Homo sapiens: one gene and its partner. The protein of the gene in region 1 purifies or fractionates together with the protein of each later gene. This does not show direct contact. Each region holds a gene or a part of one and is shown on either strand. Other genes may lie near its edges.

Region 1 (3,500 bases):
GGAAAAGCTGTAGTGACAGAGTATATTTGGACTTACTAAGGGAACAGAGAGAAAGGTACAAAAAATGATATCATGGTCTTGGCTGTGAGACTCTCTGGGATTCTAAAAATGCTGAGGTCCATACATGTTCTGGTGCAAGTACCAGGAGAAAACAGAGCAGGAACAGAGCAGGTACAGAGAGGAAAAAGGAAAATAATATATAGTTAATATGTTATGCTTTAAAAAATGTCTGAGATCAACTTTTTCAAATTTTGAATATTTAAAATCACTTTAGTTAAATTATCTATCTAATGTGAAAAAAACCTTGTAATCACAAAAGTATACTACAGTACCATAGATTCCAACTGACATAGTTTAAAGGTTAATATCTAGCCAAGTGCTTTTGGAGAGTTATAATGTCAGAGGCGTGTGACCCAGAACAACTACATCTTGAATAGGAGCTGGGTAAAATGAGGCTGAAACCCACTGGGCTGCATTCCCAGATGGTTAAGGATTCTGAGTCACAGGATGAGATAAGAGGTTGGCACAAGATACAGGTCATAAAGACCTTGCTGATGAAACGCATTCCAGTAAAAAAGCCAGCTAAAACTCACCAAAACCGGGAATGACCTCTGGTCGTCTTCACTGCTACAATCCCACCAGTGCCATGACAGTTTACAAATGCCATGACAACATCAGGAAGTTACTCTATATGGTCTAAAAAGGGGAGGCATGAATAATCCACCCCTTGTTTAGCATATCAAGAAATAACCATAAAATGGGTAACCAGCAGCCCTCAGGGCTGCTCTGCTTATGGAGTAGCCATTCTTTTATTCCTTTACTTTCCTAATAAACTTGCTTTCACTTTACTCTATGGGCTCGCCCTGAATTTTTTCTTGCACGAGATCCGAGAACCCTCTCTTGGGGTCTGGATTGGGATCCCCTTCCTTAACAATAGTGTCATTTTTATCCCAAATGTTTCCTCTTCCATTTTAAAATCTTCTTCATTACAACCATTGGCACCTCTTTTTACCTTGAAAGCAAAGCTAGTCTTTACTGTGGCTGTGCTTCTAAGGTTTTTAACAAACCCATGTTGAGTACATCTTTCAACTTTCATTTTTATTCTTTTGTCTCCTTTCTTTTGCTTCTCCAATCACTGGTATGGAGAATTACTTCATTCCAGGGCTCTCTAAAGATATAATGAGCCTTTCTCTCCTTTCTGACTTCCCTCTGCAACATTCCTTTCTTTACTTTCTCCTGACACTATAGGAACAGCCTTTCTATTGACCTTATTAATTATAAAAGGACAAGATTAGCATCATGAGTATAGTTCTCAAATATAGCAGCGTATAAAATACGAATGACATTTTTCTGTGTGCTTACAATGTAAAGCAATTATAATAGGGATGTTATGGTTGGCTTTATAAGTAAATATTCTGATTTATACTACCTGTATCTACAGCTACATAATTGATATGCAAATTTGACTTTGTTTTGCATAAGTTTATCTGGCCATTATATCTATTTATAAATGTAGTTTGTGATTATATACACTTAGAGGTACTTGGTGTACTAGTTGAAATTTTATTTCCACATACCTCTGTGGGAGTCTGTTGAGCCTTTTTTTCAGATTTTGGCAAATCTTTGCTTCCTCTTCTTTTTAAGGATAACTGAAACAAAGCATGAATATATTTAGTTGGATAAACTATAATTTTAATTCAATTTTATGTTTTTAAGTATTCTAGTCTCAAACGACAAAACCAAGACAAATAAAAAGAGTTAGTTCAATAATCATAAAAGGAGGAAAAAAAATCCTAAACCAGATAGATTTAGATATATTTTTACTTTGGACTAGGATACACATCACAGTAGAATGTAGCTGGCAATTATTTAATTTGAGAAATACAGGAAACCTACTGTGAAAATGCAGAAAAACAACAGACAAAATTGATTGTTGACTCAATATGATATATAGTTCAAATGTAAACAAATGCTTGTTAGCATTCCACATCACTGAAGGAAAAAAAGTAAGTTATTATTTCCAATGTTGGGAGTTAGGTTGCTATAAGCTTATGAACACACACTTTCAGTGAATTTATGTAGAATCGGAAGCACTTCATTCTCCCCTCACCACACATCACCCCCTTGCTCCTCCTCGACACGTGCAAAATGATAGGGCATGGTAGGGGTTGTAGTGAAATGGAGAAGGCATGCCCCATCTCAAGAAACAGGTGGACCAGCCACAGCTTCAGCTCATTGTGTGATACAGGAATGTGGGCTTTTACAAGAGAAGCTGGGAATCTGGATTCTTATGTAAAATCTCCCACATTTTACTGGCTGATCCTAATTAAAATTCAAACTAACACTTTGGAAGTCAAAGAATACACAGCTAGTGCCAAACTGTTTCAAGGACAAGCGTAATATGATCTCTGGTGCTCAGTTCCATTTCTCACACCAATATAAGAAGAAGGGTCTCTGTATGTAAACAATAATTATCCGTATGTATGACTGTCTACCATATACTACACATTGAGGGGGAGACTCAAAGTTTGATTAGATACTGCATCTACCATCAGGAAGCTGAAACTTAGCAGGGGAGGAGACAGAGAAGCAAACAATTACAGTGCAAATTGATAAATGCTATGCTTTAGGTTCTGTGAAGCAGGGGTTTTGATTTAGTGTGGCATCACCACCATAAAAATAGTGCTTGCCACATGGCAGGTGGTGAAAAAAATACTTGCTGAACTAATGATATATGAATACCAAATCGAGGTTCTGAGGTCAAAGAGAAGGACAGGGGTATAGACTGACAGTAAAAATAGGGAAGCCTTTTCCAAACAGGAGTCTTCATAAATTCGCAAAGAAATGAAAATTAAATTCTTCACATGTTAATTTCTAACCCATATCCACTGTTAAGTAAAGGCATACGTTCAAGCACAGAAGGCAGGGGAATACTTTGGTGCAACTGCTTTCATTCAGTATGAAACTGAAACTACACAGACAAATGAATAGCCCACGTGGTTATTCATTTCTAGTTCTTTACAGGAAGAAGTTCTTTCTGTTGCTTGTATAATCTTCTTAGAAAGGAAAGCTTGGGGACTGACTCACCATAACCAAAAAGTAATTTAGGAAGTAATCAACAAAACAGTCCCAAGAATACCAAGAATAAAGTGAGCTAAACTAAGAAACCTGGAACATTCTAGGTAGGGGCTGCCTACAAGAAGCGTTGAATTTGTTTCACTAAATACTTATTGAATGCTTGTATTTGAATTCACTCAATTATGTGTTTATTTAGTGACTACCAATGCACTTCATAACATACCTGTGACACAATAATAATGAAACCAATGTGATCTTTGCTCTTTTGGGGGTTCTCAGCTTACTTGGCATGATCTGTTCAGTCTGGAATTCAACACAGTGTTATGAAAGCAATGATAATACAAGAACAATATTAACTGTCATTGAGCCCTAATTCATGTCAACCCCTTCACATACATTATCTCAGCTAATTTTTAAACACT
Region 2 (3,500 bases), on another chromosome or scaffold:
TCCTCTCATACAATGCCTAAAATGTTGCAAAACAGGTGTAAGCTAATGAACAGGTCATTACTCTTTAAAGAACAATAAAAGTAAATATACCTTTCTACAACCAGAAAAAAAACACACAAACCTTTATAAAATTGTAGTTAACACATGGTTATTTATGCATAGCTTATTTATTCACTGCGTAGAATTAGCCACACATAAAAAGCAAATTTTAAACAAAAGTTTGAATTCACTTTTCCACAAAAAATGAACATTTACAAAATGTTATGCACTGTGCTGGGGTTACAAAAATGAATGTTAAAAAGTTTCTAAACACTCTAAAATTAGTGTCAAAAAGCCCCCAAGAAGCTTACAGTCTCTTAGGGTATATCCTTTCCTATTTTGTAAGTCTCTGACATTTGTTGAAATGTGCTCAAAATATTTAAATTGGAAACAAATTTAGGAAATACTCATCTTCGGACATATTAGGAAATGAGGCATTCTAAGAGATCAGACATTTTGGTTTATAGGGCACTGAACTTTTTCTCCAGGCCACAATATGCAATATAAATCTATTATGTGAAAAATATACACTGTTGTAGTCTGATTCAAGTGTTAAGACTCTCCATACATCTTTTCCCCTAAGCTTACTGTCTTCAATCTTACTGTTTACAAAGCCCTGTTATTACTTTCTTTAAAATACCTTAGATTTATGCCCTTTGACATTTAGAATGCTAGTATTAGGAATGGCAAAAACTGCAATTACTTTTGCACCAACATATACTTGTAAGGAGGCATATACCTCATTACTCCACAAGTGTTCTAGCTCTTGCCATCATACCTAACCTATTCTATGTACCAATACCAGACTAACCTGCTGATGTTAATATTCCATTTAAAAATATATACATTGGGATGGGCATGGAGTCTCACGTCTGTAACCCCAGCAATTTGGGAGGCCGAGGCGGGTGGATCAGTTGAGGTCAGGAGTTCGACACCAGCCTGCCAGCATGGTGAAACCCCATCTCTACTAAAAATACAAAAAAATTAGCCAGGCGTGGTGGCACATGCCTGTAGTCCCAGCTACCTGGGAGGCTGAGGCAGGAGAATCGCGTGAACCCGGGAGGCAGAGGTTGCAGTGAGTTGATATCGTGCCACTGCATTCTAGCCTGGGTGATAGAGCAAGACTACACCTCAAAAAAAGTTTTTTTTTACATTGGCTGTAAATTTTCTTTTCAGTTTGTAAATATAAACTTTTCCTGGTTTTCAAAACTCTTTAATCCACCTGTACAGTCCTAGTTCTCCCAATATTCTCTCCAATACACACCAAGAAACGCAGTCAGGACAGTCACCTCAGTGTCACCTAAACACATAGGACTCACATAGATTCATGTCATTGCCCATACCACTTCTCTGCCAAAATGCACTGTCTTAGGGTCAAATAATATCCAAGCTTCATGGCTCCACTCAGCTCCACTCACTACCTGAAACCTCCTCCATCAACTATTCTATCACTTACTGAAGTTTCTCTAAATTCAGTATATAATTAAAAAAAAAATTGTTCTTAGACTTGCAGTGGTGGCTCACGCTTATAACCCCGGTACTTTGGGAGGCCGAGGTGGGTGAATCTCTTGAGGCCAGGGGTTTGAGAGCAGCCTGGGCAACACAGCAAGGTCCTGTCTCTACAAAGCAGGCATGGTAGCACATGCCTGTGATCCTAGATACTTGGGAGGCTGAGGTGGGAGGATGGCTTGAGCCCAGGAGGTAGGGGCTGCAGTGAGCCGTGATCGTGCCACTGCACTCCAGCCTGGGTGACAGAGTGAGACCTTGTCTTGAAAATAAATAAATAAATAAATAAATAAATAAAAGGTTCTGTTTCATGTGTTATCTTCTCAACTTTAAGACACAGATCGTACTGGTTATTTCTTTGGCATCCACTCCTTCACCCTACACTACCCCAGCAATTAATTTCAAAAGGTTGTCTATTGCTTACCTTCTGTGAACAAGAACCAAACCACTTCCCACTTCCCAGATATTTTTCTTTGCTTTGTTTTTAAATACTTTTTTTCAGTGTAGACCATTTTGAGCATACCTAGACAGATCAATAGCACGTGATAAACTTAAAGATTGTGAATATTTGTCTAGAACTTGTGCTATCGCCTAGACCTCATGCTATAGCCCAATCTTTATCTTCTTGTTCCTCTCTTATGAATAATCAATACATTAAGGAGTGCATTTATGTGCAACCAGATTCCATTCCTATACCTTCAATATAAATATCCTGAAAAACACCTACTACCCTTTTGGGAAAATGTGTAAATGATCCCTACCAAGCTGCTCATTTACTGACTGAATATTACAAGATACAAACTATTAGTATAAGAAGTACATTGACATGTATGGTATCAGTATTACTAATTTATGCTGCCTTAAGAAATCTCCCATGATTAGTGAAAATTTAAGTATATAACCCACTCAAAGAACAAGCTGAATCCTCAAGAAACAGGTGTTCACACACTGTAGCAATCTTTAATTCACATTGTTTTGAAAAATGAAGATAAACTATGACAAATCCTACTGGCAGGATTATAAAAACACAATATTATCTTTTGTTTAACTTAGTTATTGTTGGATATATTTAATTTGGATATTATTATATTTAACAATCTATGCTGAACTTAATTTTGAAGGCAAAGTTAAAAATAAAGGATTTTTTTTTTTAATGTCAGGGGACAGTATAAATGTAGTCCGCCAGTGCCACAAAATATGCAGTCAAGTTCCAATATTTGGGGAAACTGCAGGGGTCAGCACACCTGAAGTGCAATGAATAGGCCTAACCCTGAGAAAACCGTCTTTGAGATTTTGACATTTCATCTGCCAGGTTAAGCATTTTTTTCTATTTGTATAAATGTATGAGGTACATGTAACATTTTGTTAAGTATATATGAGAAGTCATCAAGTCAGGGTATTTAGTGTGTTCATCTCCTGAGTACAATACATTTTGTTTACTATAGTCACCCTACTCTGCTATCAAACATTGAATGTATTCCTTCTAATTGTATGTTTGTATCCTTTAACCCACTTCTCTTCATCCTTACCTCTTAAAAACTAAAGATTTTTACCATTTTTGTTTTTTGAGACAGAGTCTTGCTCTGTTGCCCAGGCTTGAGTGCAGTGGCACAATCTTCACTCACTGCAACCTCTGCTTCCTGGGTTCAAGTGATTTTCCTGCTTCAGTCTCCCAAGTAGCTGGGATTACAGGTGGCCACCACCATCCCCGGCTAATTCTTGTATTTTTAGTAGGGATGGGGTTTCACCTTGTTGGTCAGGCTGGGCTCCTTACCTCAAGTAATCCGCCCACCTCGGCTTCCCAAAGTGCTGGTATTATAGGCATGAACCACTGCACCCAGCCAATTTTTACCATTTTTAATATACATATAAATCTATAAATGTTTGTTCCTTTATGTGAAACAAAAAACTAGCCAACTTATCTGAGACACTAAGGTTTCTACAGATGATAATTA

What was found. Proteins that work in one complex are often made in the same cells at the same time.
Region 2: the proteins of MTCL3 (region 1) and RIOK2 purify together in Homo sapiens (affinity purification with mass spectrometry; one large-scale study listed by BioGRID and IntAct). This does not show direct contact.

Annotation. Positions count from the first base shown.
Region 1 is NC_000006.12:127,481,336-127,484,835, forward strand, and holds part of MTCL3 (microtubule cross-linking factor 3 precursor), read right to left. Parts: intron 1,650-3,500; coding exon 1,578-1,649; intron 1-1,577.
Region 2 is NC_000005.10:97,173,248-97,176,747, forward strand, and holds part of RIOK2 (serine/threonine-protein kinase RIO2), read right to left. Parts: intron 2,069-3,500; exon of another isoform or gene 1,970-2,068; intron 17-1,969; coding exon 1-16. UniProt on the Homo sapiens protein: Serine/threonine-protein kinase involved in the final steps of cytoplasmic maturation of the 40S ribosomal subunit. Involved in export of the 40S pre-ribosome particles (pre-40S) from the nucleus to the cytoplasm.